Linked DNA regions of Homo sapiens: regions 1, 3, 4, 5 and 6 are each reported to be linked to region 2. Evidence: microRNA targets listed by miRTarBase, many of them from high-throughput screens and not tested one by one. Region 2 holds a microRNA gene; each other region holds the end of a gene's coding sequence.
What was found. Region 2 holds the annotated microRNA hsa-miR-660-3p (ACCUCCUGUGUGCAUGGAUUA, at 1,481-1,501, shown strand). A microRNA usually pairs through its seed, bases 2 to 8, with sites in the 3' UTR of a target mRNA and lowers its output. Matches are read on the target gene's strand: a 7mer-m8 pairs with bases 2 to 8, a 7mer-A1 pairs with bases 2 to 7 and ends in A, and an 8mer does both.

Region 1: miRTarBase lists TMEM178B as a target of hsa-miR-660-3p. Seed matches in the 3' UTR shown: 7mer-A1 at 601-607 and 7mer-A1 at 598-604.
Region 3: miRTarBase lists CHST15 as a target of hsa-miR-660-3p. Seed matches in the 3' UTR shown: 7mer-A1 at 2,695-2,701.
Region 4: the mRNA of TOP3A is a reported target of hsa-miR-660-3p. Seed matches in the 3' UTR shown: 7mer-m8 at 1,981-1,987 and 7mer-m8 at 2,288-2,294.
Region 5: the mRNA of FAM174C is a reported target of hsa-miR-660-3p. The part of its 3' UTR that is shown has no 7-base or 8-base seed match.
Region 6: the mRNA of SAMD8 is a reported target of hsa-miR-660-3p. Seed matches in the 3' UTR shown: 8mer at 2,681-2,688, 7mer-m8 at 3,000-3,006, 8mer at 3,159-3,166 and 7mer-m8 at 4,540-4,546.

What each region holds. Positions count from the first base shown.
Region 1 is chr7:141,469,668-141,474,544 of GRCh38, reverse strand. TMEM178B (transmembrane protein 178B) reads right to left here. Exons shown (of 4, transcript NM_001195278.2): 4 at 1-4,009. The coding sequence ends at 3,759. Among named protein-coding and RNA genes, the nearest start is that of AGK-DT, 79 kb to the left of the region's middle.
Region 2 is chrX:50,011,812-50,016,688 of GRCh38, forward strand. It overlaps MIR660 (microRNA 660), which reads left to right and starts at 1,430; the gene lies at 1,430-1,526. The region is part of intron 3 of CLCN5 (chloride voltage-gated channel 5); the gene reads left to right. MIR502 (microRNA 502) reads left to right here and starts at 2,787; the gene lies at 2,787-2,872.
Region 3 is chr10:124,005,957-124,010,833 of GRCh38, forward strand. It overlaps CHST15 (carbohydrate sulfotransferase 15), which reads right to left. Exons shown (of 8, transcript NM_001270764.2): 8 at 1,712-4,383. The coding sequence ends at 4,193. Among named protein-coding and RNA genes, the nearest start is that of CHST15, 85 kb to the right of the region's middle. RefSeq lists an enhancer at 1-118.
Region 4 is chr17:18,271,191-18,276,042 of GRCh38, reverse strand. It overlaps TOP3A (DNA topoisomerase III alpha), which reads left to right. Exons shown (of 19, transcript NM_004618.5): 19 at 1,063-4,615. The coding sequence ends at 1,241. Among named protein-coding and RNA genes, the nearest start is that of MIEF2, 13 kb to the right of the region's middle.
Region 5 is chr19:1,278,510-1,283,293 of GRCh38, reverse strand. It overlaps FAM174C (family with sequence similarity 174 member C), which reads right to left. Exons shown (of 3, transcript NM_017914.4): 3 at 4,066-4,517. The coding sequence ends at 4,517. Among named protein-coding and RNA genes, the nearest start is that of EFNA2, 5.0 kb to the left of the region's middle. RefSeq lists enhancers at 1-707, 3,558-3,667.
Region 6 is chr10:75,175,954-75,180,830 of GRCh38, forward strand. SAMD8 (sterile alpha motif domain containing 8) reads left to right here. Exons shown (of 6, transcript NM_001174156.2): 5 at 113-263; 6 at 435-4,877. The coding sequence ends at 739. Among named protein-coding and RNA genes, the nearest start is that of VDAC2, 32 kb to the right of the region's middle.

The sequences.
Region 1 (4,877 bases), not on the chromosome of region 2:
CCATGATCCCTGAAGTTGAAAGGGTAGGGTTGTTGAAAAGCTAAGGCTTGGAGGAGGATTGAAGCTGGAACAGGCACAGATTTTATTTTTCATATTTTGATGCCAGGGAGCCACAGACCTCCTTATAAAACCTACAGCCACAATGAACAAGGAAGGGGGCTGCTTGGAGTCTAGGAGCCTCTCTACAGATGAATCACTTGTCTATGTTAATTGACCAAAGTTGATGCAGGAGAAAGTAGGAGTGAGTAGAGAGAGAGGAAACGGAAACAGAAGAAGAAACCGTAACTCCCAAAATAAGGAGAAAAAGATATGGGACCTCTCTCTAGGTAGAATACCTCACTTTCCTGAATCTCAAGGTAGTAGAGTAGGGAAGGAAATAAAAGTTGCAATGGGCCCCAGGCTCAAGGTTGACTTGCATGGAGCTCAAAGCACATACATGTTCATATGCCAGTAAGAAGTTTGAACTTGACCTGGGGTTGCGGCTGGTGACTTTAGTGAGGTCATTGACCCTAAATGCCCTCATAAGGTTGGGTTCCACTTTGATTTGGAGTTAGCAGAGTCTGACCTACAGAGCCTCACAAGTCAAGGCTCCTCTCTTCCTCCTCCTCATCTCCCTCAGCTACCTCACAGCCAGAAAGCTTCCGTAACTGGTTGGAGTCACATGTTTTAATCTGTGGTCAAGCCCTTATGCTAGAGGGATCAAGGTCACCTGAGAAGTCCTCCCATTGGCCAGGACTTGCCGTCTGAAAGGGGCCTCTATCCTGGTCATGTGGCTGGGCGTCTTTTGCTTCCCAGCAGGATCAGATCCCAAAGTGTGTTCGTATTTATCTGGTCCTGCTATCAAAGAAGTCACTCAAAGCCCCTGCTCTGGGCTGGTGAGTTGAGCCCAGGTTGTTTACGTCTTTCCTGGGAGCTTTCTAACATTTCAGGAACTCTCAAGGTTTCAAAGGGATGCAGTAAGCTTTGCTAAATGTCTGTCACAAAGACAATAATTGGATAGAGCAGATAATCTATTCATTGAAAGTATGGGATTTTTTTTTAAAAAGAGGATATAAATAATGATAGGTCTGTGAGCCAGCATCCTCAAACATGATTACTTACAAAAAGTTTAAATGGTTCATAGCAAATTTCCCCATTTAGAATTTTTCCCCTCTCTCCTGCAACTGGAAAAAAGCTGGAATTTCAGTGTGGTCATAGACAAGCCCTCTCCCCCAAATGGATGCTTGTGAACCTGTCTGTCCCTTCCTCGGCAGAGCCCCTTCAGGACGCTTGGAAGGAAGACAAAAGGCCTCTCAATCTGAGATACTTTTCTTCACTTTTCCTTAAGCCCAAGTATGCCCTTCCCCTTAAGGGAGAAATCTAACTTTTCAAAGAAAATTAGAAATAAAATGCCCAATTGAAAAACTGGGTTTTCCTGAAAATTATTTCCCTTCTCATAGAATAAATCCTTTGTTTTAAAAATAATCCTTAGAACCCCAACTGGAAGCTAACAACTTTTCCCGTTGCACACCTTACCCTATCGCCCAGCACACCCACACACAGGGAACTCACACATGAGACCTTTTGCAGAAGCTGACCAGAGTCCCCGGTAAGGAAGTCTTGAGTAGGGCACCCACACCTGTGTGCAGGTGTGTACTGACACAAACGTACACAAAATGCACCAGAGAGATACACATACAGAGAGATCCACATTCAACCCCATTCATGCACATCAGATGTCATATCATATCCAGATATGAATTACATACACGCAGTTCAAAGGAGCAGATGAGGGTGGAAGATAGAAGAGAGAGAAGGTAAGTGGTTAGTAGGTGAGAAAAGGAGGAGAGTGGTAGGAAGATGGGTTGGAAGACGTGTAAATGAAACAGATTACACAGCAGTGGAAGAAAGGCTGCTGAGTGCCTGGCAAAGCTCCCAAAGCATATTTGTTTATGAAACAAGGGGATTCTCTGCTACACAGTTGACCATGGCTACACCAGCTCAGGGATTCTCACCTGGCCTCCCCAGGGCTGCTGGGCACCAGCAGGCTCACTGAGATGACTGTGAGCGGCTCCAGCCCACTCCAGCAGACTCCCACCCCTACAGCGTTCACAACTCTCTGGCTGACTTTGCTTGCCAGCACCTGCAGTGCTAATTTGCTCAAATGAGCCCGAGACACTGGGGTGGATTTATTCCACCTCTGTTTGGGTGCTAGCCACTAAGACTGTTATTTTGGGATTCATGGCCTTGAATATCAAGAGGGAAAGGAAGAGGATGGAAAGAGTCAAGAGTTCTGCATTAATTTACACAATATCATACAAACTTGAGCCCATGGGAAATGGAGGTGCTCTCTCTGCATGTGACCCACTTCCTTTCGTTTGTACAGAGGTCACCCCTAGGGAAAGGGGAGATGTCCAGTGACAAAGGACAGCTTCTATAATGGGGAGTGAAGGTCTTGTTGGTTTATGTTCTTGTACAACAGCAACCAGAGCAACATTTCTTCTCTCTCCTGAACTGTGTGTTCCCCCTCTTCTCTCATGGCTTATGTGCCCAGCTGTGTCTTGAACTTCCAAAATTAGAGGACTAAATCGTGCAGAGTCCCAGAGCTGTAATGTGGAGAACCACGGGGGTCCTCTGGCCCAGTGGCTTTGTTCTTGGTTCTGCCCTCTGGAAATTTCAGCTATACCAGAAACAATTTAAAAAAACACAACACAAACAATAAAACCCCACGCTCAAGAAACATCCACCACACACACACACACACACACACACACACACACACACGCACACACACACCACTCCAGGGATCTGTAGCTGCAGAATTGGCACCCTTATAGGCCTGTCCCTCATGACAATTTCTAGGTCTCTGGGCCTCTATCTGGGGCCATGAAACCACTACAGTGATAAGAGAGACAACAGTCATAATGCAGTATTTCCATTTAAAAGGTAGAAAAGAAAAAAAGGAAACCGCCCAAAGTACACATGCACGCACACCCACACACACACATCACAGCATGACTCCAAGGCTCCAGTCTGCCCAGGGAGTGCAGGTGCGGCTGGGGACAGGGTGGCCTCTTGTTTCACTGGGTGTAAGGCAGCTGGAAGGTAAGACTGGGTTGTCTGAGCATCCACCGAAGCGTCCTTTCATTGATGCAGATCTTGCCTCTCAGCATGTTCTCTTCCCTTCCCACCTATGAAACATGGTCCAAAAGTTTGGCAGCAAAGAGAAAACGTCCTTCTCAGTTTGTTTTCTCTTCCACTCCTTGTGTGTTGCTGGTGGGCTGGGAAGGAAGTCCGAACAGGAAGAGCAGGAGAAGAAGTGATTCTGAAAATGGCCTCAATAATTTGGTTACATTCTAGGAACTGAGGGCTTTGTTACCCTGTGATATGACTGGTTAGGGGTGGCGTCCTCTCCCGTTGACCCAGTGGGTGGCACTTCCTTCTCTACATCTGTGCTGCCTCAGACCCCTTCCACTGTCCCTTCACCACCCCATCCTCGCCAGTGATGGGGATCAAGACGCGGTCGCAAGTGGTGGTGTTTGCTCTGTCTTCAAGAGACCATGAAGCCAAAAGTCAAGAACTGATGGAAGAGCCACAGGATGGAAAAACTTTCCCCATCTCAGAGATGAGGCAACACAAAGTCCGGCGAGATGCAGGTGCCTGAGCCAACTCAACTCTACCTTGGCACTGGCATCGTCTTGATTTAGTTTTGTTTTGTTTTATATATGTATATTATATATATATATTTATATATATATATGTATGTATGGGTTTGTTTTTTAGCACACTGTCCCATTCTCGGGTCTGGATTTAGGGTAGTTGGTCCTCGGGACAGGTTGAACAGAAGGGGCTAAGGTACAGAAGAATCCCGAGATGAGTGTGAGGCCCAGGCCCCCCCATGCACAGAACATGGACCAGCCATAGCCATGGCTGATGTCATCAGGGAGTCCGTACAGGTAGCGTGGGTAGCGTGACAGCTCAAAGTTGATCCCGGCCACACAGGTGCACAGTGAAATGATGCAGAAGGTTCCTGGAGGACAAGGGAAAAGACACAGGATGGGGAAATGGAGAAGGAAAGGGGAGAGGAGCGGGAGAGAGAAAGAGAAAAGTTAATATTATTACATTTTCAATTTTCTTGAGTAGGAAAAATGGGAAGTCTAGGTAAGAGCAGGTTATCACCAAGGTCAGTATCTGGAAATATTCATGGAGCAGAGAATAGTATTAAAGGATCATCACTTCATCACTCTCCAATAATGGCCCAGTCTTGGACACACTCGGGAAGTCTCTCCTTTGGGAAGATGCTAAATAGATATCTCATGAGCATTTTGTGTGGGGTAGAGTGAGCAGAAGAGCATTCAGTTCATTTTCCTAAAGCATTTTAAATTCATTGTATTTCTTTGGAGACATGGAAAACACCTACTGTTTGCTACTTCTTTAAAGAGAAAAACAATCTTTTCTCTTTCTTATACATAACAACTTACTCATACAGTATTAGGTTTTCCTTTAATCTGTTCACCAACAATTCTTCCAAAACCTGGAAATATTTTCCTTTTTCCTATAAGACATTTCCCAAAGTGTTCTCTCTGGAGTGCTAACGCTATGAGATCCTTTACAAAGTGGGAGGCAGAGTCAAAAGACGGGGAATCCTACTCATGACTTCTCACCCATGAACACGCATCATCCACGTTAATATTAAGGTAACTCATCTACCCTACTTTATGCAGAATTTCACAAACTTATTGATGATGGGACGTCCTCTTAAAAACATTACTTATATCAGTCTCTAATAAGAAAACTGCTATAAGAGGTAGAATGATATAAAATGGTTTAGAATTATAAACCCATTTTAAACTAATACAACAAGTTTTTGGTGTGCCTAAAATGAATTCAATAACTTT
Region 2 (4,877 bases):
GCACACGTGCACACACACATACTCTGTATGGCTGCTTGGGCCTTCAGTCCTGTTCCCCCTCTTGAATCCTGGTACCTGGATGCAAGTGCTGTGTCAATGCGGTGCACCCAGGCAAGCATTCCACGGCTGAGCCTTTTCTGCATAGAGCGAAGAACACCTGTTTATAATCCCCATCCTTCATTCATTCCCACCTTTAACAAGCAGGGGTGGCGCTCCTGTCATGCACCAGACATGGAGAGACAGGGTGGTCAAGAAAGACACAGAACTCATACTCACATGCCTAGTGAGCATGTTTAAGAGAAGGAACTTCCGTTGCCCACATTGTTCATGCATACGTATGTAGCAGAGAGTGAGTCTTCCCATCATCCCCTCTCCAACCCCCCAACAGTGCTCAGCTAGAGAACTACAAAAGGTGTGTCTCCCCTTACACAGAGCTGCAGCCACAGTGTGCATAGGATAATGAGTGTCATTAGCAGCATCTTCTCACTCATGTCTGGTGTGCAAGGCAATAGGCTTTCTACTTGCTGCTTATGCCACCAGAGCTTGAAGGAAAGTGGCCCTACTTGTCAGTCATCTCACACATGCATATGAAGAAAAGACACTTCACCTTTGTATGGTCATAGGAAAATCACCTGTGAGCCAGAGAGTGCTGTTTCTTTTGTACATACACACAAACACAATGGATTTGAAGATGCTCGAGCCTTCTATTCAGGTTGTCCCTCTCTTTCATTCTTCGTAGTTGGGTACAAATGCTATTCCAGTCCATTGCCTTGTACAAAAATTCAGAGAGGGAATCTCATCCATGTTTAAAAGTGTAGAGTCTTTGCATCACCCCTCTATGTCCCATTATTTCATTTCTTTAAGTTATGTATAGAGCAGTGGTTCTCAGTGTGGTCCCTGGGCCAGCAGCATCTGTATCACCTAGGAGCTTGTTCAAAATGCCAATTCTTGGGCTCATCCCTGACCTACTACACCATAAACCATGGAAATCTGTACTTTACCAAGGCTCTCAACTGATTCTGATGCTCACTTAAGTTTGAGAATCACTGATTTAGTATAAGTGCTAGCTAGGGGCAGTGATAAGCTAGTCAGGTGAAGGGTGGAAGAGAATGAGCTCCTGCATTGCTCATGTACGTTCCCAATGCCGAGTCCATGCAGACTGTGGCAGGGAAGCCATCATTTCATTACTGTCTCCACCTCCTCCATAACCACACATTCAGTGAGCACATGAGGCTAAGTGAACACACAACAAGTACTTTATTAGGGAATAGACTTGGCACTGCTTCTCCAGGCGTGCACCTGACACTTTAATCTCAATCTGTCTCTCTCTCAATCAATCAATCAATCTCTCTCCTCTCTCTCTCTTTCTCTCTTTCTGTCTTTCTTTCTCTCTCCTCCCCCACCCCCCTCCCATGTGCAGAAGAATGAACTGCTCCTTCTCCCATACCCATTGCATATCGGAGTTGTGAATTCTCAAAACACCTCCTGTGTGCATGGATTACAGGAGGGTGAGCCTTGTCATCGTGAATCTTCTGCTGAACAATCCAAGTAGCCCGTGTTTATTGCGCACTTTTGATGTGCCATGAGCTGTGCTGGGAGTACCCTGCTAAATAATGGACAGTGTCTCTCTCCGGGACTTCCTATCTAGTGGAGGTATTAGGTGCCTAGACTTCCCCAGGCCTAGGCAACAGACACAGGTGTGTCAGGAATTGAGCCTTCTCATTCTCTTATGAATACACATGCTCACATTGTGCATGCATGTGCACACACACATGTGTAAGTGTAGAAACATTTCTGTACAAAGCTGAAAGGAAGGAGCCTTATTATCTAAACTTGCCTGCAAGTTTCCTTGCCACACACACTCAGATGCATGCCTGGTGTGCAGGTGCCTGGACTTTGATTTTTGCTTGCCCTCTCCTAGCCTTGCAGCCTAGGCACAAGTGCTGTCTTAGCAGTGCAATGGGCTTGTGCAAGGATACCAGCTTGTGAGCCTTGCCTATGTGTAGGACAGAGCCTGTCCATCCCTTCTCTTTCCTTTGTTCATTCTTTCAGTCAGTCATTTGTGTGTGCATGTTTTTGGTCCATTCATTTATTCATCCCTTTAACAAATTTACTGAATTCCTGCTGTTTGGGAATGCCACAGTAAACTAACCTGTCAGAGATGCCGACCTTACTGTCTAGCAGGCTCATGGAGAATAAGCATCCTCATGTCATCCAACTTCCTGTGAATACATGGGCTCAGGGTGCCAGAAATCAGGCTTTTCTTTATTCCCTCCCACAGACATGGGTACCTGTGCAAATATATGTGGTGTGCACATCCTGAGCCTGCTGCTCTGCTTCCCCTTGTATCCTTGCCACCTAAATGTGCATGCTGTCTCAGTGCAGCACCTATTCCAGGACTCTCAGAGGGGCCTTTTTCTGCCCATAGACAGACAAAGTGCCTGTGAGTCACACTTCCTCCTCCCTCTCCTTCCCCTCTACCTCCCTTTCACAAGTATTGAGCACTTAGTACATGCTAACGCTGTGCTGCCAGGGCAGTGGGCATATGGTATCACACAAGATGGACTTGGTTCTTGCCTCAAAGAATATGTGTAGGAGACTTGACTTTTTGTCACCTAATATTCCTGCACGTGCTGAGTTAGTGTGGGCCACAACATGGGACTTCTTATTGACACCCTCTCCCAACATATACACAATGCAAGACTCTCATTCCTGTTCTCACACAGAGCTGTGTAACAGAGAACCTTCTCTGCTTCGAGCACGGCAGGTGCCCAAGCCTTCTGCCCTGCTCCCCCTCTCTAATCCTTGCTATCTGGGTGCTAGTGCTGGCTCAATGCAATGCACCTGGGCAAGGATTCAGAGAGGGGGAGCTCAACTGTACCAAGAAGGACAGAGAGCCTAGACATCACCCCTCCCACCCTCCCCTGTCATAGTTTTTGAGTGATGGGTGTGTGTTGGGGAAGCACAGAACAGAATAGTTAGGGACTTCAGGTGCTCTGGTGGGCTTGTCTGTGTATTAGAATAAATGTCCTTATTAAATAATGTCCATGTATGCAGGTATCCAGAGTGAGACAGTGAGCTTTCTCTGTGTTCCCCACCTGCTGTCCACACACAGGGTGGTGGGCGGGAACCAGAGCCTTCTGATTTGCTCCCTCACTTCCTTCCAACCTAGATGTGAGTGCTGTCTCAAGTATTAAGCCAAGGATTCAATGAGATGGAGCCTTGCCTACCTATATGTATATATATGGACTGAGTGCATATATGTCTCTTTTCTTGCCTTCCTATATCTTGAGTTTCTAGAGTGTGACAGATACTCTTTTTAGTGTTAAGGATGCAGTGACAAACGAGAGTCAAAATCACTGGATGTGCTCTCTGATGGGCAGCTTTAGAAGAAAAATTCAGACGGGCACAAATGATGGGGGCCAAAGAGAGAGTCTTCCTATTCCCCCCACTCTGTCCCCTCTGAGGACAGGGAGATGCACACATTCATGAAGATTTACACTTACAGAATGTATAGGAGTTTGAGCTTATAAGCTGCCCTTTATCTTCCAGGACATCCTGAGTAGAACTGTGAGCTGCCTTTAGATGTCTATTACAGACTCTTCTTGAATTAGAGGGGGTGAAGAGCAAGGGACCCTTCTTATTGCTGATCTTGTATGCACCCCACACAATATGGAAATGAGAACAGCCTATATCTTTATATTACCTTACTTTAGTCAAATAGAGATGGACTATACATGTCTCTGTTTCAGTCTATCGCTCTCTCTGTCCGTCTCTCCATCTCTCTCTCTCTCTCACCTAGGGAGTACAGGTGCCCATGATCTGATTCACTCCCCTCCTCCCATCCTTAGCGCCTGAGCCTGAGTGCTTTCTACTGTGACCTCAGCAGTATTCTTCAGTTGTTACTCTCTTCTTAGCTAAGCTGATCTATTCATTCCTCCCCATCTTATCATTTTTGCTCATTGCCCATTGCAAATTTATAGTGTTCAGGTCAGCGTAGCAATACAGTATTATAAATAGTGGTGACAGAGACAGAAAGAGACACACACTCCATTTCAGTCCTCAAGTTCTTAAACATTTGGGACTTATAGATTCTGATCCTTGGTCCTTCTTCTCTCCCAGATTCTCCCAATCTAACCTGCAGTAAAGATTCAGGTTATTTAATATGTGCTCCTTATCTTTTGTATACTCTAAAATCTCATTTTGGTTACTGCTCAGCCTTAGTCTTATTTTATCAGACTTTATACCTCTCTTGATGCCCAAGACTAGCAGCATCAGCATCCTCCAGGAACTTGTTAGAAATAAACTCTCAGGCCTCACCTCAGACCTAGGTAATCAGAAAGTCAGGGGTGGGGCCCAGCAATCTGTGTTTTAACAGCCCTCCAGGTGATTCTGATGCACACTGAAGTTTGAGAACCATTGGTTTAAATGACTTAAAATTTCTATTCTGTCATTACTAGGGGGATTTCTGTGTTACACAGGATGATTTTTAGCATCAAAATTTCCTTATGTGTAAATGGCTCTTTTAGTTTCTTTTCATATTTTAAAAATTCATAGACTTTTTTGAGCAGTTTTAGGTTTACAAAAAGATTGAATGGAAAGTATAGAGTTGTTATATATTCTCGAGACACCCCAGTTTCCGCTATTAACATCTTGCATGAGTGTTGTACACTTGTTAAAATTGATGGGCTAATGTTGAGACATTATTATTAAATAATAGTATAATTATAATGTATTATAACTATTATTAAATAATAGTTTAAATATAATTATTAATGTAAACCATAGTTTACATTAGAGTTCCCTCTTTGTGTTATATACTCTATGGGTTTTGACAAGTGTATAATGACATGCATGACCATTATAGTATCATACAG
Region 3 (4,877 bases), not on the chromosome of region 2:
GTTCCCGCAAAAGCAGGTTGTTAAAAAGAGCCTGGCACCTCCCTCCCCCGGCCCTGCCCTCCCCTGTGACCTCTGCGCAGCCCGCCCTCTTCACCTTCCGCCAGGCGTGAAGCAGCCTGAGGCTTTCACCCAATGCTCAATCCTTAGCCAGCAGAATCGTGAGCCAAACAAGCCTTTTTTCCTTTATACATTTCCAGCCTCAGGTACTCCTTTATAGCAACATAAATTCACAAAGCTCCCAGGCCGACAGCTGTTCCGGCCGATGCAGCTTCTGCCCCACGGGACCTATTCTGTCTCTGCTGCTCTGCAGGGAACCTTGCCCGGTGAAGTACTGGGAAAACCCGATTCATCAGAGTGATGTTTTCCTATCAGTCCCCATGGGATCCACCTCACCATAGGCAGCACAGCTGCCTGGAGGGTGAGATTTCTGGAGTAACAGGAAAATAGTCACCCACATAATCCCTGTCTCCACACTCAGGGATCCTTGGAGTTCCTCCACCTGGAGCACAGCCTTTGCTTCAGTTCCCAAATAGGGTCATTTTGTGGGGAAGAGGCATACTCCTCATCAGGATCCTTCCCGAGGGCTGGTTTCTCGGTGGGGAGTGGGTGGCCTCACGGGAGAGGCTTTCAGAGGAAATCTGAAATGGAGGGAGGTCATACCCTCAGCCCTCAAAGATGCACCCCAGCCGTCCTGCTCCTGACTCCCACCCGTCCTCCATTCCCTGCTGGGTAAAGCCATTCCTGACCCTCGCAGGAAAAGATGGGGTCTTCCCTATTTCCAGCCTGGACACACCTGCCCCCTACCTCAACACACCACTGTGGGAGGTGGTGCTGGGGAGAAGGCTCCCCCAGGAAGGTCTGCCCAGAACTGGGGGACCCACCATGGTCCACGCTGTGCTCAGGATGGCCCAGCTTTCAGAGCCCTAAGCCTGAGATGTCCCCTCTGTATGGGCTGAAAAGTGTGCCCCAAATTCGTATGTTGAAGTCCCAATCTCGAGTACCTCAGAATGTCACTGCATTTGCAGATAAAGTTGTTTAAAGAGATGATGAGGTTAAGATGAGGCTGTCAGAGCACGCCTTCATCCACTCCGACTGGTGTCCTTATAAGGAGAGGAAGAGGCAGCAGGGGTGTGTGTGTGTGGCCACATGAACACACAGAGAGAATCAGCCATCAGCAAGCCAAGGACAGAGACCCCCAGAGAAACCAGCCCTGCAGCACCTTGATCTCGGGTCTCTGGCCTCCAGACTGAGAAAATCAGTTTCCGTTGTTTGTGGTCTTTTGTCCTGGCTGCCCCACCTGAGTGCACACCACACCTCCTTCTGCGGGCTTGCCCTCAGCAATAAGGACATGTGCCAGAGACACCAGGGGTCTCAAACTCACAGCTGCCAGGGGCCAGGCAGGCCACCGGAATGAGGCCTGTGGTCACTTAACCTTCAAATTTGAAGGTCTGAAGACAACGCTAGGCCTGACTGTGGCTGGGCCAGACCTCCCACCCTGACTCACACCCCAACAGGACTCGCACAGGGAGTCCCTGCTAACATCTGAATCCTTTTCTCTCTGGTCTTGAGTTTTCTTCTGCCTGTTGCTCGCACAATCACACCTCGTCTCTCAGCAGCCAGCACAGCTGTAACTCCTCTTTACACAGAGCCTGCACAACTCGAGCAGGTGCGACACTAAACCACTGCGATTCACTCATGCACCAGGAAGAGCTTGGCTGCAGAGGAAGAGCACGCGCTCCACAGGCGTCACTCTTATGGGTCCATCTTTAATTATGTTAAATATTAATAAAAGTACAGCGTAACTGCGATTCACTTAACATACCTTACAGGACTAAGGGAGTACAATTTAACACGGTCACAACTTTTGAGAACAAAAAGGAACTTCAATACCATGTTGTGAGAAATGCTCCAATTTGCTTTGGTTTTGAATGGCAGGCTCGAGAACCACCGCCCAGAACGGAACCTATTCTGTCAGCAAGAGCCGGGCCTCGAATGAGAGGAAGCAGAGGCAGCCGAAGTGCCCTCTGGAGAGAAAGGCCCCTGGAGGGAAAAACCATGTCTGGATGGCATTGAGTGGCACAGAAGGGATGGGACTGCATATATAAAAAAGATCCGCATAATAAACCAAATAATATTGGAAATAATACCTTCAGTAATACTTCTGTAAGAAGCAGAATTACACCACATGTTATTCACATGCATAGGAGTGCATAAGAAAAATCCCTTGTTGTAATTATGGTTGGTGTGGAATAGTAAAATATGTACTGAAAATGACAAGTTAATTGGCAGAGAAATTAATCTATAAAAGGGTTGTGTCCAGAGCGGAGGAGCCTCATTAGCAACTGAACAGAACCCACTCAGAAGACGCACTCACCCACACGTGCGCGTACACACACACACACGCGCGCACTGTACTGCAAATAAATATACACACACACTGAAGTGATCTCTCCCTAAAGCATCCTTGTGCTCAGGCCAGATTTCCCTGCTGGCGGCTGCTCCCAGTGCCGGCTATAGAGAAGGTGGGGACTGTCCCTGCAAGTGGGAGTTCAGGACACACGCTCCTTCAGTAGCAAAAACAGCCCTGGCCATCCTGGCGCTCAGAGCCCTCTGCACACCTTCGAACGGGCTGTGTGTCCCTTCTCTGATGGCAGAAAGACAACACCAGCAGAAAGACGGCTGAACAACTGCAGATCCTCCTACCCCCGAAGCCTGGTCTGTCTCACACATACAAGTTAGAGCTGGGTAGACGGGTGCTTGCACTTTCTGGCTTTGGTGGGCGAGACCTTGGCCTGAGAACTTTGGTTCACAGGAAGCTTCCCTTGACAATACTTGAGTGCAAAGCTTCATCCAGGTCCCACCTGGGCTGTTGCCAAGGATGCTCAAGCGTTCTCTTCAATCTTCCCTGTGACTTCCAAGAAACGACAAGATCTCTAGCCCATCCATCGGTAAACCAAGCTGCCAAGTGGCCTGGAAAATTCCATGAAGAACACGGCTCTTAGAAACCTCATTCCAAATCTCAACACGCCACGTTCAGCCCAAGTTCAGCTTGTGCATTGTGTTTTGGAATTGGGACACGAGTATCTATAGTCCCTTGCTGGGTGAGGAACTTTGACCACACGCAGTGGAGAATGTGGAAATAAACTATTTCCAATGGGAAGGCAGAGAAATGGAGCCTGTAGCCGGCCAGAACTAAAAATTAAAATCCTCTGTTTCTCTGATGATCTTGTAAACCTGATGAGGGCTTGAATTACCTAGATTTTCCAAGAAGTGTTCAATTCCTTGAGGTTGCTCATTCTGGCATTAACAGCAAAAATTTCTCTTCCAATTATAAACTGAAGTTCTTGAGAAAACGTATGAAGAGGCAGCAGAGAGAGAGCCAGGACTGGTTAAATGCAGAAAGTGGTTTTGTTTTAAACGCATTCATTTTCTATGTTAAACATAAGTCCACAAGGACAGAATAGGAGGAGGTCAGAAAGATGAAGGTGCTGCCAAAAACTGACTTATTTTTTTCCTTTTGGAAACAGTGACGTTAACAGGGTTTACATCTGAAGAAACTGGAGGGCTGAGTTTGGAGTAAAGGAGAAAAAAAAAATGAAGAGCCTCCATTCTCGAAAGACTGCGGTTCTCTGTCCCAGTGAGGTTAGCGATCGCAACAAGAGTGTTTCAGAAGTGAATGTGGTATGATCACACCTGTGAAGATAGCCATTGAATACAGACAGTCTGTGCAACACGGCGAGACCCCATCTCTAGGGGGAAAAAAAGGGAACGTGAAGTGTAAGTTCCAGCCAGGCCTGTGGCATGACCTCTGGCTTGCTGACTCAGAACCCAGAGGCTCTCCAGAAGGCGGAGGCGGGCAGGGCCAGGCTGCCTTCCCTAGGTGTTCTCTCCACACCCAGTGCAGGCCAGCTGGCTGCATCCCCAAGCTCCAGGACGCTCAGAGCAGAGCTGAATTCTTGAGAAACTGGGGTCTCCAATGGCCTCGGATAGAGGAGCTCTGTGAGGGGTCCATTGCTGAGCTCTCGAACATCACGAAGGAAATTCCAAAATGGTTATAATTCATGTGTGCCTAGAGTGGCAGAGTCCTGGGGTTTTCCATACCATGAGTGAAACAGTTCCCCGCAAAGAGATTTGTAAAATCCTGATGATGACGGCATTGGCGGGCCCAGCACGTGCAGCAACAATTCAGCTCTCACGTCGTCTTCCACGCAAACGCCTCATCCGCGAGGACCTGCGCCAGCCTAGCGTTGAAGGGCCTGTAGAAATCCCGCAGAATCTTCTGTGTGATGGGCCACATGGGCCCCAGGTTCCGGTCCTCGGGACGCCGTGCATTGGATGCGGGGCTCTTGGTCATCAAAGCCTCCTGCTTCTCACTTAAGGGCCCTAGAATAAAAGAAGACGAGTCCCGTAAGGCAGGAGGCATGGCAGGAAGTAAAAGGGACTTTGCAAAAATCCCAGCTATGCTTCGTATTCAGACAGGAGTTTCCTTTAAGAGAACATATTTAGGGATTAAAATTCTTTGGCTGGATCCATTTTGGAAGCACTGAGGGAGGAAGGTGGAAACACCATCAGGAAATTGCGAAGAAATTCTGCGGCGGGTGCAGGATGCCCACCCTCGGGGGAGCCCAGCTGGCATTTAATGATGATACAGCGTCTAAGGCTGACCTCAAGGATTCCCTTCCAATTGCCCTTGGTGGGCTGCTCTCCATGGGTGTCAGCCCGTCCTTGGAGGAACGTGCGGCCTGCCGAGCACAGCCCACGGGTTTCGGTTTTCCTGCTCAGCAGCCCTCTGGAATTCCGCCATCATCGTTTCTACTTCAGGCTGCTCATGCCAAGGTCCCTGGGCCTGCACAGTTTCACCCTGTGCGTCTTGCTGT
Region 4 (4,852 bases), not on the chromosome of region 2:
ATCGCACCTCAACCTTACAGAGTTGGACACAGTGTGAAGGGAGGCTGGCTGGTGGGGTGTACATGGCTGTATAAAAACTGATTCAGCCGGTCGGGCGCGGTGGCTCATGCCTGTAATCCCAGCACTTTGGGAGGCCGAGGCGGGTGGATCACGAGGTCAGGAGATCGAGACCATCCTGGCTAACACAGTGAAACCCCGTCTCTACTAAAAATACAAACAATTAGCCGGGCATGGTGGTCGGTCCCTGTAGTCCCAGCTACTCTCGGGAGGCTGAGACAGGACAATGGCGTGAACCCGGGAGGCGGAGCTTGCAGTGAGCCAAGATTGCACCACTGCATTCCAGCCTAGGCGACAGAGCCAGACTCCACCTCAAAAAAAAAAGGCCGGGCACGGTGGCTCACGCCTGTAATCCCAGCACTTCGGGAGGCCAAGGCGGGCGGATCACAAGGTTAGGAGATCGAGACCATCCTGGCTAACATGATGAAACCCGTCTCTACTAAAAATACAAAAAATAAAGTAGCCGGGCGTGGTGGCGGGTGCCTGTAGTCCCAGCTACTCGGGAGGCTGAGGCAGGAGAATGGCGTGAACCCGGGAGGTGGAGCTTGCAGTGAGTGGAGATCACGCCACTGCACTCCACACTCCAGCCTGGGTGACAGAGCGAAGACTCCATCTCAAAAAAAAAAAAAAAAAAAAAAAAAGTTGGTTCAGCCTTATCGTCTGCTGCTCTTTTTTTTTTTTTTTTTTTTTTTGAGACAGGGTCTTGCTCTGTTGCCCAGGCTGGAGTGCAGTGGTGTGATCACAGCTCACTGTAGCCTCCCAGGCTCAGGCATCCTCCCGAGTAGCTGTGACCACAGGCATACACCACACCTGGCTAATTTTTGCATTTTTTAAAGACAAGGTTTCACCATGTTGCCCAGGCTGATCTTGAACTCCTGGGCTCAAGCAATCCTCCTCCCTCAGCTTCCTAAAGTGCTGGGATTACAGGCATGAGCCACCGTGTTCAGGACTTGCCACTTCTGCATGTCAGTTCTAACCTCACCCCTCCCCTGACTCTCCCGACAGGGACTTCTGGAGCCCCGTCCTGGACAGGAGACAGAGGAAGAACCCTGGAGTCGGAAGCCAGAAGCAAAAGGCCCCGGGCCAGTTCCTCAGACATGGGGTCCACAGCAAAGAAACCCCGGAAATGCAGCCTTTGCCACCAGCCTGGACACACCCGTCCCTTTTGTCCTCAGAACAGATGAGCTCAGGGTAGGGTAGAGAACGCCACTTTCTCAGACCTGTCCCCTTTGTGTTTAGAAATGAGTTAACCAGGACCAAGTGGCCATTTAGTGTCCTGGAAACTTAGAGGACAGTGTTGGCCTTTGGAGTCGGGCCTTCTTGTGTTAAGGGGCACAAGGTCCAGATCACTCTGGAGCAGGCCAGCTCTGCTGGACAGTGACCCTCTTCCCAGGCCTCAGGAGTGACCATAGCCACTGCTGAAAAGTCACGCAGCTGCTCCCTCGGACCCCCCAAGGATGGTTGCTGTTAGCAGAGGATTGGTGCAGTCCCAGCTGAAGCCCACTGTGTGCCAAAGGAAGAAGCTCCCAGGGCTGCTTCCTTCACCTGCAGAAAGCCCCAAGTGAGCCACCAGCACTCATGGGGCAGTCCCTGTCCAGGCTGCCCAGGGCTTCTCATAGACGTCCTGAGAAGGACGGTGTAATGCAAGGAAATGGCTGTGGTAACACTGATCCTTCAGAAGAAGCTTCATTCCCTCTTAATCTAGTTAAGCCAGGACATCCAGAATTCATTGCTTTAATAAAGAACCCAGGCCGGGTGCAGTGGCTCATGCCTGTAATCCCAGCACTTTGGGAGGCTGTGGGGGGCGGATTGCCTGAGCTCAGGAGTTCGAGACCAGCCAGGGCAACATGGTGAAACCCTGTCTCTACTAAAATACAAAAAATTAGCCAGGTGTGGCGGTGTGCGCCTGTAGACCCGGCTACTCAGGAGGCTGAGGCAGGAGAATTGCTTGAACCCGGGAGGCGGAGGTTGCAGTTAGCTGAGATTGCGCCACTGGACGACAGAGCGAGACTCAGTCTCAAAAAAAATTTAAAAATTTAAAAAAATAAAAAGAATCCAACCCCGGCAGGGCGTGGAGGCTCACACCTGTAATCCAGCACTTAGGGAGGCCAAGGCTGGAGGATTGCTTGAGATCAGGAGTTCAAGACCAGCCTGGGCAACATAGTTAGACCTTGTCTCTATTTTTAAAAATATAACAAGCACAGTTGTACACGTCTTTAGTTCAGCTGCTCAGGAGGCTGAAGTGGGAGGATCCTTTGAACCCAAGAGTTTGAGGCTGCAGCAAGCCATGATCACACCACTGCACTCCAGCCTGGGTGACAGAGTAAGACCCTGTCTCAAACTTTTTTTAAAATGAAAGAATCCAACCTTTTTTTACTCTGACCTGCGAGAGTGCAGAGGGTCTGGGGAACATTTGCAGAAGCAACAGGTACCAGCCAGTGCTGGAAGGAGCTCACCCTGGGAGGTCTCGTCAGCCTCTGTCCTTCATGGCTGTCCCTTGTGTCCCATGTGGAGAGCCCTTCCTCCCTTTCCACATGGTAAGCACTGAGCCCAATTTCTTCTCACCCCACAGATGGTCCCTCAGAGCAGAGATGTCTAATGAAAGGTTCAGATTCAGATCACTAACTTTCCATCTTCCACTTTTTCCAGTGGTGGCCATGTTCCCCCGTTTGCCTTCACAAAAACCTTGTGAATAATACAAGCCATATGGACTCTGATTTACAGTTTAGAAGATGAGCAGAGGTGGGTGTGAGTTGCCCAGTCATGTTGCTAGTTGTTGAAGAAACTAGGATTGTTCTCAGGTCTTGGGCTCCTGGCCCATAGACCAGTGGCTCTGTGTTCTGATGGGGTATTGGGGAGGATTTTTACAAATGCAGGTTCCTGAGATTGTTCCTGGAACATCTCCGAGTGGGTGTGGGTTGTGGCCCTGCGTGTGTGATTTTGCCTATCCCAGCTCCGGGGTACCACCAACCACTTTTTGTCTCTGTGGGTTTACCTACTCTGGATATTTTGTTTAAATGGAATCATACCAGGCTGGGCACAGTGGCTCACGCCTGTAATCCTAGCACTTTGGGAGGCCAAGGTGGGCAGATCACCTGAGGTCAGGAGTTCGAGACCAGCCTGACCAATATGATGAAACCCCGTCTCTAAAAAAATACAAAAATTAGCCGGGCGTGGTGTCAGGCACCTGTAATCCCAGCTACTCAGGAAGCAGAGGTTGCAGTGAGCTGAGATCGGGCCATTGCACTCCAGCCTGGGCAAAAAGAGTGAAACTCTGTCTCAAGAAAAAAAAAAAAATGAAATCCTACCATACATGACATCCTGTGTCTGGTTTCTTTGACTTGGCTGATGTTTGTCAGGCTCATCCACATTGTAGCATGTCAGTCCTCGATGTTTATGATAAGCTGATAGCCCACTGTATGAATATACCACACGATTATCCATTTGTCAGTTGATGGACATTGGGTTGTTTCCACTTTTTGGCTATTGTGAATAGCACTGTTGTGAACATTGGTGTATGAGTGTCTGATGACTTGTTTTCAGTTATTTTGGGCATATGCCGAGGAATGGAATTGTAGTTTTATACCATAACTCCATGTTTTGACTTTTTGAGGAACCTACAAATTTTCCACAGTGGATGCACCACTTTACACCCACCAGCAGCACACCAGGGTTACTGCTTCTCCATATCCTTGTGAACACTTGTTCCTTTCCTTTTCTTGTATTATAGCCATCCTAGTGTTTTGTCATCCTAGTGGGTATGAAGTGGCGTGTCATTGTGGTTTTGTTTTGCATTTTCCTAGTCATTAATGACATTGACCATCTTTCCACAGGCTTACTGGCCATTGGTATACATTCTTTGGAGAATGTCGATTTAAGTTCTTCACCCATTTTTTATTTTTTATTTTTTATTTTTTTTTGAGATGGAGTTTCGCTCTTGTGCCCAGGCTGGAGTGCAGTGGTGCGATCTTGGCTCACTGCAACCTCTGCCTCCTGGGTTCAAGCAGTTCTCCTGCCTCAGCCTCCCAAGTAGCTGGAATTACAGGCATCTGCCTCCACACCCAGCTAATTTGTTTAGTATTTTTAGTAAAGACGGGGTTTCACCATGTTGGCCAGGCTGGTCTCAAACTCGTGACCTCAGGTGATCTACCAGCCTCGGCCTCCCAAAGTGCTAGGATTAACAGGCAGGAGCCATCACACCTGGTCTCTTCCCCCATTTTTAAATTGTGTTGTCTGTCTTTGTTGTTGAGTTGTAGGAGTTCTTAATAGTTTCTGGATATCAGATGCCTTTGTGGTTTTCACATCTCTGCAGGCAACTGTGTGTCTCAAAAGCAAACTGCAGGATTGGGCTGCACCATGGACTGGGCCAGGCATCTGAGATCAGACAGACCCAGGCTCAGCTCCCACTTCCTGGCCTCTTCTGCCACCCTGGGTGTGCAGCCTCATCCTTGGAGCCCCAGTTGCCTCATCCGTAATGGGGTGTCCTTGTTCATATTGAGGCTCTCTAGTGAAGGCTTACGGTCAGGCACGACTGCAAATTAAAGCTTCACAAATCAAACCTGTTGGAATTTCTAAGTCTCTCTCGATGGCCCACTCAGGTTAGCAGCATGCAGCTCATCCTACCCCGTCAACGTTGACTGGAAGGGTTTTTAGTCCCTGTGTTGAGCCACATCTGCAGCTTGTGCAATGCAAAACCAAGGAAAAGAAAATGGACCCCCCCCGCCCCCCCCTTGATGGATCTAGCTGAGACTAGGCACTGGCCAGGCTGTCACCTACAGTGGTTTCAACCTCCTGC
Region 5 (4,784 bases), not on the chromosome of region 2:
CAGGAAGGGACTTGTCCAGCCCGTGCCCAGCACCCACTGCCCACATGGCCAGGCCACAGGGCTTGGGATCAGCGTCCCGCAGCCCCTCAGCCTTCAAAGGCCGCGACGCCAGGAGGAAGCTAAAAATATGCGGGGAGAATTTCTCATTACAGAATAAATTGGACCCAATGCGCTGCCTGCCCTGGTGCCGGCAGCCTTCAGAAGCCCCATCTCAGCCAGGCAAGGATCAGGCGGCAGGGGTCACGGGGCGCTGGGGCCCGGGCAGGTCACAGGCTCCACTCAGGGCGGGAGCCCCACCGCTGTCCATCGCCCCCCACCTGCGAAGCACGGAGCTGGGGTCTGCGCTTAGCCCCAGGGGCCAGGGGCGTTTCCCCTGGGCTGGGTCGCTGTCCTTGAAAATAAAAATGTATCCCTTTCTCCAGTGGGTAACATGAAAATCCCCACCCCCATCCAGCCATGGACCCAAGATTCCTGCAACCCCTGCAGCCAGTGGTGGAAAAGAGCAGGCACACAGCCCCATTCCCAGCTCACCCTCCTCCCTCCTCCCCAGCTCCCATCCTTCCCATTCTCCTCTCTTCACACTCTCCTCCCTCCCTCCTCCCCTCCCTCCCTCCTCCCTTCACACCCTCCTCCCTCCCTCCTCCCTTCACACCCTCCTCCCTCCCTCCTCCCCTCCCTCCCTCCTCCCTTCACACCTTCACACCCTCCTCCCTCCCTCCTCCCCTCCCACCCTCCTCCCCCTCCTCCCTTCACACCCTCCTCCCTCCCTCCTCCCCTCCCTCCTTCCCTTCACACCTTTCCCCTCCCTCCCCCTCCCTACTTCCCTCCCACCTCCCCTCCCTCCTTCCCTTCACACCTTCCCCTCCCTCCCTCTCTCCTTCCTCCCCTTCCCACCCTTCTCCCCTCCCTCCTTCCTTCCCCCTTCATACTACCCTCCCCTCCCTCCTCCCCCTTCCCACTCTCTTCCCCCTTAATACCCCCTCCCTTCCTTCCTCTCTCCCTCTCCTTTTACACCTTCCTCCCCTTCTCAGTCCTCCGCTCCCTCCTCCCTCCTTCCCCTTCACACCCTCCTCCCCCCTCCTTCCCCCATCCTCTGCACCCTCCTCTCCTTCCTCCTCCTCCCCTTCCCTCCTTCCTTCCTTCCTCCTCCCATCCTTCCTCTCCATTCACATCCTTCTCCTTCCCACTCTGTCCCCTCCCTCCTCCCCTTCCTCCTCCTTCCTCTCTCCCTCATCCCACCTTCAGGTCTGGGGCCTGAACACAGACCCGTTCTCCAGTGTCCAGACACCACCAGCGTCCAGAACTTTCCAAGACAAAGGAAATGTCCCTGCCCCCACCAATCGCTGTCCACCACAGTGACTGAGGCCCCAGACCTCTCCCCACGGCGACTGAGGACCCGGACCTCTCCCCATGGCGACTGAGGACCTCTCCCCATGGTGACTGAGGCCCTGGACCTCCAGTTTTATGTAACTTAATGAAATAACGTGAATAGCCATGTGTGGCTTTGTGTCCCACAGCAAAGCACTGGGTGCTTCTCAGGGGCTGGCTGGCCTAGGACGGGGACGTCAGTGGCCTTAATGTGGGGTCAGTGGTGGCTCAGGCCCCCCACAGAGGAGATGGGCACCTGGGGGTGAGATCCCTGGAGGTGGGGAGTCGAGGGTACAGGGGTCTCAGCACCCCCAGAAGAGGCAGAGAGCCCTCCGTCGCCTGCCAACCCGAGTGACTGTGATTTGGCACATGGGGCCACATCCCTGGGGCACCCCGGCACCAGGGCGGCAGAGGAGCCCTGTCTCTATCTCCCCAGGATGAATGTCGGCCCCAAGCTGTGGGCACAAGCCGGCGCCGCAAGGAACCCAACGCATCCCGCCTTTGAGGCCACGTCCCCAGCGCCCACCCGCCCCTATTTCACAAGCGGAGAAGCCCCGCAGTGAGTCCACTGGACTCCAGCCTGGGCGGGGCCCGCTGCTGAAGCAGAGACCCCCACCCCCCCCCACCCAGAGGCACAGACCTGATATGCTGCTTGTCCAGTGGGCACACCGAGGGGCAAGGGTGGGGGGCATGGGTCTGAGACACTCCCCGGCGTGGGGTTAGGAGCTGAGCAGGTCACACCCATGTGTGTGATCGCGTGTCCCACGGGGCTGCGGGCGTCCCATCCATGGAACTGTCCGAGTTGCTTACCGTGTGTCTATGAGACTGTATTTTGTGGGTGCCTGCGTGTCTGCGTGTCTGCGTGGGAGAGGTGGAGGAAGCCACTGCCCGCCCCCGCAAGCTCCCAGGCACCCGCACACACACGCACTCCCACGGGCACACACACGCTCACAAGCCGAGCACCAGCCGGGACCTGGGGCCTTTCATTTCTCGCTGACAGGCCCCTCTCCGGCTCTGAGCCCAGGAGAACCCCTGGCTAACAGTGCATTAACCTTGGGGGGCTGCCAATTACTCTGCAGCAACGTGGGGTGCAGCACGGGCCCCGACAGGCAGAGGGGACGGAGGCAGCAGAGCCCCTCTCCCTGCTCGAGCGGGGGGCGGCGGCGGCTGGGCTGGGGGCTGCGGCATGTTCCGACTCCGGATGGCAGAGCGTGGGTCTCTCCTGACCTCATTAGAGTAATTAATGTGCCTTTTGAAGCTGGTGAAAGCGCTCAGAGCTGTGGGACGGGGGGCACAGATCACAGGGTTGGGGGCCGGGGCTGGTGTCTCCGTGCCTGTTAAAAGTGTGTCCCAAAGGGTCAGACATGGAGACAGAGACGGACAGAGACAAAGTGAAGGAGGCAGATGGAGAGATGCAAACGGGAGTTTGGAGACAGACGCAACGGCCAGACAGATGGGGAACAGCAGAGCCCGAGTCATAGGTGTGACTTGCTTGTCCCCAGTCCCACACACAGCCAGGCTGAGCCAAGCTGCCCTCCCCACCTGCAGTCTCAGGGGCCTCCCTCGGGCTCTGCCCTCACTTTAAGGGTTGCTTCCCCAACCTTCCCTGCAGGATTCCCCTAAAGAACAGGCTGGGGTGGGCAATCAGGGAGGACTTCCTGGAGGCGGCAGCTGAGGCTGGGGCAGAGAAGGACCCAGGGCACTGGAAGGGGAAGGAGAAACGTAAGCAGAGTCTTGGCAGGCCTGGTCAGACGGACATGCCCAAGGGAACAGATAGTACCAGGACAGGGGACCCTGGTCTGAAGGGGCGATAGCCTGGCCCCCAGTGGAGACAGCCCCTCCCAACCCTGGCGGCAGACAGGGAGGGTCGGCAGGTATGTGAGATGCAAACCTGGGGGACTGCCCATCCCCCAGTGGATGTGAGGACACGGTGGGTTCAGGAAGTGGAGTGACAAATGGGCTGTGCTGGACTTGCTTTCCCACATGAAGGGTTAGGACCAAGGAGACAGCCAGAGGACTGGGCGGCTCAAGGCTGCCACCTGGTGGCAGCTCCTCCTCGTGACAGGGCAGTGGCAGCTCCAGACAGGTTGCCTGTGGGGGACCTCAGGCCATGGGTACCCACGCACCATGGTCTCTCCAAGGCTAACCTCATGGGGGACAGGATGACAGGCCAGGGCTGGACTCCGCCCAGACACAGGCCCCTGCAGGAAGAACAAGGCCCCAGGGAAGCTGATTAAGCACCTTGCCTGGGATGGGGTCTCAGGCTCCAAGTCCCACAGGAGGCAGATGGGGGAGGAGTGTCCGGCATGGGGACCCAGGCCGCACGGAACTCCAGCCTCCTGCAGCAGAGCTCTGGGGCTCCCTGGAATCATTGCCAGAGGTATTCATGAGGGTGATGTGGGGATCCTCCAGGGCAGGGCCCATGAGACCCAGGCTGAAGGGATGGCATAGAGGGGGCCCTGGGGCAGGGGCTTTGACGGATGAATAGGAGTTCTCTCTAGGAAGAGAGATGCTGACAGGCAGGGCCTCATCCCAGGCAGCTGAAGATGGGTTCCTTACTTGGGAGCAAGGCTGGAGAACCCAAGCATGGTCGCAGATGGGGAACCGAGGCTGGCTTGAGCCCTGCTCCGCCACCCACCCCCACACTGGCTGCACCAGTACGCACGGGTCTAGAGGTGGCATGGGGTCAGCACCAGCTGCAGAGACATGGCTGCATTTATTGTTCCCAGCCCGGCGAGAAGGTGTTCCCAGAAAGGTTCCTTGGGTCACCTGCCCACCCAGCCTTGGCTCTGGGCTGCCATGTCCCCACGGGGGCAGGAGAGAGGCACAAGTCACAGTCAGGCAAGGGAGCCTCAGCGTCCTGGGCGGTGGCTGTTGGGGTCCCTCCAGTCTTCACCTGGGACCCTCGGCCAGGCTGGGACAGCATCCAGGAGGCGAGGCTGCATGGTCCAGCGGTGGGTGCAGGTGGCAACAGGTCGGCGGGCTGTGCAGGTTCCAAAAGGAGCTCTCGGGTTGGCACTGGGTGAGACCAGCCCCGGGGCCAGCAGGGGAATGAGCGGTGGAGCAGGGGGTTGCTGGGCACTGGGGTGGGCCCCATCTCCTGTCCTTCCCTCATGGCTGCTGGAAGGGCCGCCTCCCTGGCTCAGCATCTGAAAGCAGGGGGTCAAGGGTGAGAGGGAAGGAGTGAAGGGCCCGCCCTGCCGGGCAGAGGCTCACCCAGGTCAGGCAGGGGCAGGCAGCCTGTCCAGGCCCCTCGGTCTACCAGGGCCCAGCCTCCCCCCACTGGCCTCCCTCCCCGGCCTCCTGGGCCCTGTGCAACTGCCCACTCCGGGGGAAGGGGCCCCCAGCCAGGAGGTAGAAGAAACCTGGGAGGGGTTCCCAGAATGGAGTCAGAGCATGCGGAGGGATCCCAGTGC
Region 6 (4,877 bases), not on the chromosome of region 2:
CTTAGATCTTATTTCTAAGTTATTCAGCATTTGAATTTCAATAGGAATGGATGTTGGGAAGTTCCCACCTCCCTAAGCATTTGAAGCACTAATTCATAACTTTTCTTCATAGATATATGGCAGTGTATGGGAGAAATTACATCGAGCCTTTGCCATTTGGAGTGGCTTTGGTATGACCCTGACTGGCGTTCACACATGTGGAGATTACATGTTTAGTGGCCACACAGTCGTCCTAACTATGCTGAATTTCTTTGTCACCGAATGTAAGTATCTTTTTAGTGCTTCTATGCGTATTAGGTAACTAGCTGCAGTGAAGGCTGTGGGAAGGGTGTCAGATCCTGTGAAGAATGGCAAAACAGCCTGACCTGAGAAACGTGACTGAGAAGCATTGGAAGGAATGTAGCTTTAAAATGATCTTTCTGTCCTTTTCCTAGATACACCAAGAAGCTGGAATTTCTTGCACACTTTATCCTGGGTTCTCAACCTCTTTGGAATCTTCTTCATCTTGGCTGCCCATGAACATTATTCTATTGATGTGTTTATTGCTTTTTATATAACAACAAGACTCTTTTTGTACTACCATACTCTGGCCAATACCAGAGCATATCAGCAGAGTAGGAGAGCAAGGATTTGGTTTCCCATGTTCTCTTTTTTTGAATGCAATGTTAATGGCACAGTACCTAATGAATATTGTTGGCCATTTTCAAAACCAGCAATAATGAAAAGACTAATTGGATGAATACTATCTTTCTAATGAATTTGTGATTAAATATATAATAGTTGTTGAAAATGAGTAACTTTGCGTTCTCCCCCTAGGTTGTTCTTAGATGCCTGGCTTATGTGTTGACAAAGTAAAGTTTTCTGTTCTGAGCAAAGTTATGATTATAAAAAGCAAGAAAGAACAATCAAGAGTCCTTATGTAGCTATTTGAACAGAAAGCTTAAGTAGATGTTTTCTGCCCCTTCTCTTTAGGAAGACTTAATGTTGTGATTGAAGTCAGGCTGTACCCTTACCTGTTGAGTATTTGCTTATTGAACTTTAAACAAGTCAACTTGAGCAGTTTGCTGGTTGAGGAATTTTCATTGATTTCCAGTAGGGCTCTAGTCAAGAAATAATATGTTTTGAAGCTCCTTATTACCTTTAGAAGAAGAAACCCTAACAAGTGACAGTACTTGTTCTTTGGACTAATCTTTGTTTCATTTTAAAAAATGCAACCCTGGGACATGATCTGTTTTACTGACAAAGAGTTTTTGCCTTCTGAACCATCTTTAAATATACTGAGCATACCAGGATGCCTGAAATAAGAAGAGAATGAAAGAGGCCATAGATGACGTGACAGAGTACTGGCTAGGATGCCATTGGTCTCCTCATTAATGCAAATGTAGGGCTGGCATATTTCACCAAAGATGCAACAAAAGATGCAGTGCCAGTGTGACCCTCAGTGAGTATTCATGAGGGAAAAATGGCTGCATCCATAAAAATAAATGGGCTTAATGTTAGTGGTATAGGTACCCAGAATAACTTCTTTGTGCTATAGTTGTTAGATGACAGTTCAATTTTATGCTTTTTTAATGGTGTTATTAAATGAGCCAAATAGGAGTGTTTTACCAGATGTTAGATAAAGTTCTTAATGCCGTTAAGTAGGGAGGTATGCATGCAAAGAATTGTTTTCTCCTGAAAAGAAACTTACAGCACGCAAAATATAACTTTTTGGTTTTTGAAATTTATCATTCTTGGCTGTTGGAAGTAAACAGTCTCAGACATACTTGGATATGAAAAAGTTTCGTTGTTTTTTACTTTTAAATATAATGGTGTATATACATTCTTTCTATTTAGTCTTAATTTGGCAGTCAGGAAGTGATATAACTTAGCTGCTATTTACAACACTAGAAATTTAGTACTTTAAGTAATTTCACATCTATGATAACATTTGTTACTTTATTTTTAATGATTTTTTTACAGTAGTTATGACAGTAGGATGGTTATGGAATTGGAATTTAAACTCCCAACTAATGAGCTTAAGCTGCTTGGAATATTAATTATGTAGTTTTTACATTCCATTTTAAAACAAAAACTTAGAAAAGGTGCTGGCATTCTGAGGCCTGCAATTAGGCCACATAGCAGAAGCTTGCTCCTTCCTTATCTGGGTGAAATATTTTATTTTTGCACTTTGAGTCATATTCCCACCCCTGTATAAGCTACATAGGAGCCTGAATGAATTGGGTAGGAAAGGAAATTATGCAAACAAGTCTCAGCTAGTGCTGAATGACCCCAATTTGGGTCTGCTGTGAACATCATTTTTGTATTTCTCACTTGAGAAATGCTGCAAGGCAATTCAACTTTTATGCTTTTAAATCTCACAACTCAGAATCTGATATCTTAAATCACTGATTCTGTTACATGCTAGGAACAAAATGCCAACATCTCATGTAAAGAAGTTGCATAATCATGAAAAATAAAGGATGTTTCCTATGCCAGTTAGAGTGGTTTGACCCTTCAGGTAAAAAGATATGTTACTGTTATTTTTCTACGTGACAGAACAGACTGAATTTAGCTAGGGAGGCAGTGATGTTGGCTTTTGGGAAAGGGTTCAAAAAACTGTATGGCAACATTAATGCTAAAATGTTAAGCCGAGTGCAGTGGTGCAAGGCTATAGTCCCAGGTTCTGAGGAGGCTGAGGCAGGAGGATTGCTTGAGGCCAGGAGTTAGAAACTAGAGTGTGTTATAACGCCTATGAATAACCACTGCATTCCAGCCCGGGCAAGGTAGCAAGACCCATTCTCTTAAAAACATGGCTGGGTGCAATGGCTCACGCCTGTAATCCCAGCACTTTGGGAGGCCAAGGCAGGCGGATGGCTTGAGGTCAGGAGTTCGAGATTAGCCTGGCCAATATGGTGAAACCTCATCTCTACTAAAACTACAAAAATTAGCTGGGCATGGTGGCACGCACTTGTAATCCCAGCTACTTGGGAGACTGAGGAACAAGAAACACTTGAACCCAGGAGGTGGAGTTTGCATTGAGCTGAGATCACTCCACTGCACTCCAGCCTAGGTGACAGAGTGAGACTCCATCTCAAAACGAAACAAAACAAAACAAAACAAATTAGAGTGGGTGCAGTGTCTAATGCCTGTAATCGCAGCACTTTGGGAGGCTAAGGCAGGAGGATCACTTGAGCTCAGGTAAAAGAGACCAGCCTGGGCAACAAAGTGAGACCTCATCCCCACAAAAAGTTGTTTAGAAAATTAGCTGGGCGTGGTGATGCATGCCTGTGGTCCCAGCTACATGGGAGGCTGAGGCAGAAGGATCACTTGAGCCCAAGGAGGTTGAGGCTACAGTGAGCTGTAATCATGCCACTGCACTCCAGCCTTGGGGACAGAGTGAGACCCTGCCTCAATCAATCAATCAATCAATAACAAAAACTTAAATAGCTATTAACCTCAGTCTTCTTTCCTTCATATAAATTCTATTCTAAGACCAAATAGAAAAATAAATGTAACTAACTTTGCAGAGCTATTGACATTGAGAGACCTAACAACAGACTGCAATGGGGATTGTAAAATAACTTTTCAGCCTTGCACTTGCTCATATATGTTTTGAGAAAAATGTAAGTTAGGTATAACTTATTGTTTTAACTATTATAAGGCAGTGTTTACATAAATTAATCATCTCTTTCTTGGAAAACATTGAGACAAATTTATTTTCAGTTTTACTTAAACATGAAACCTGTATTTTAGTTGCTTTTTGTTTTGTCCAGAAATTTCCAGATTTTGTCTTCATTTTTTTTCCTGGTTAAAATCTAAACCATAGTGAAGATAGTATTTATGTTTACATTTTATCTGTGAATGTGGCTAAGCAGAGAAGCTACATGGCTTTGGTCTACATATTTTTTGACCTTGTATTTGGTTCTGTAGTTGCAGACTTGTGAAGGCTTACATCATCATGGAGACTTTAGTAAGGAAGGAACCAAAAGGTTTTTGGTTTGGGGATGCAAACTGGAGGTTATGTTACAAGTCTTCAATGCATTTTCTGTGTTCCTGGCAGCAGTGTTGCCTTTTTTTTTCTTTTCCTTTTTTTTTTTTAAAGACCAGGTAGGGTAGTGTTATTGAAGGGTAATTGAAGAGTGGTAGAGAGTAAGAGGTTTTGAAGGAGGCAGGTTTGCTGTTATCACAAAATAATTTGGGGGAAACCTTTCGTGGCTGTGCTGCAAGAATTCTTTATGTGGCTATCCTCTCCATAGTTTTCTGACCAGAATTGCAAGGGCAAAAATAGAACTTCTAGCTCTATTTATTTGTATCCTTTGAAATCAGAACTTATCCTTAGAACCAGTCAGTTAAATAATGCGGACTATGCCTATAATCCCAGCACTTTAGGAGGCTGAGGCAGGCAGATCACGAGGTCAGGAGTTCGAGGCCAGCCTGGCCAATGTGGTGAAACTCCGTCTCTACTAAAAATACAAAAATTAGCCGGGCGTGGTGGTGCACGCCCATGCCTGTAGTCCCAGCTACTCGGGAGGCTGAGGCAGAAGAATCGCTTGAACCCAGGAGGCGGAGGTTGCAGTGAGCCGAGATACTGCCACTACACTTCAGTCTGGGTGACAGAGCGAGACTCCATCTCAAAAAAACAAAACAAAATAAAATAATAATGTGGGCTATTCAGAAGAAAAAGTCAGTGACAGAGAGACCAGAACCCATTGGATCAAGAGACCTGCAGGGATTATAACTCTTTACTCTGTGAGCAGCGGTGTTTCGTGCCCTGTCTCTGCCTGTGTGTTTTTACTAAGAATTCCAGAAATCCTGTAATTTGTAAATGGGAAACAGAGGAACCAGATTGTTTTATAGCTGATAAGAAACAGTCTGTTTTAGAAACATCTGTTTGG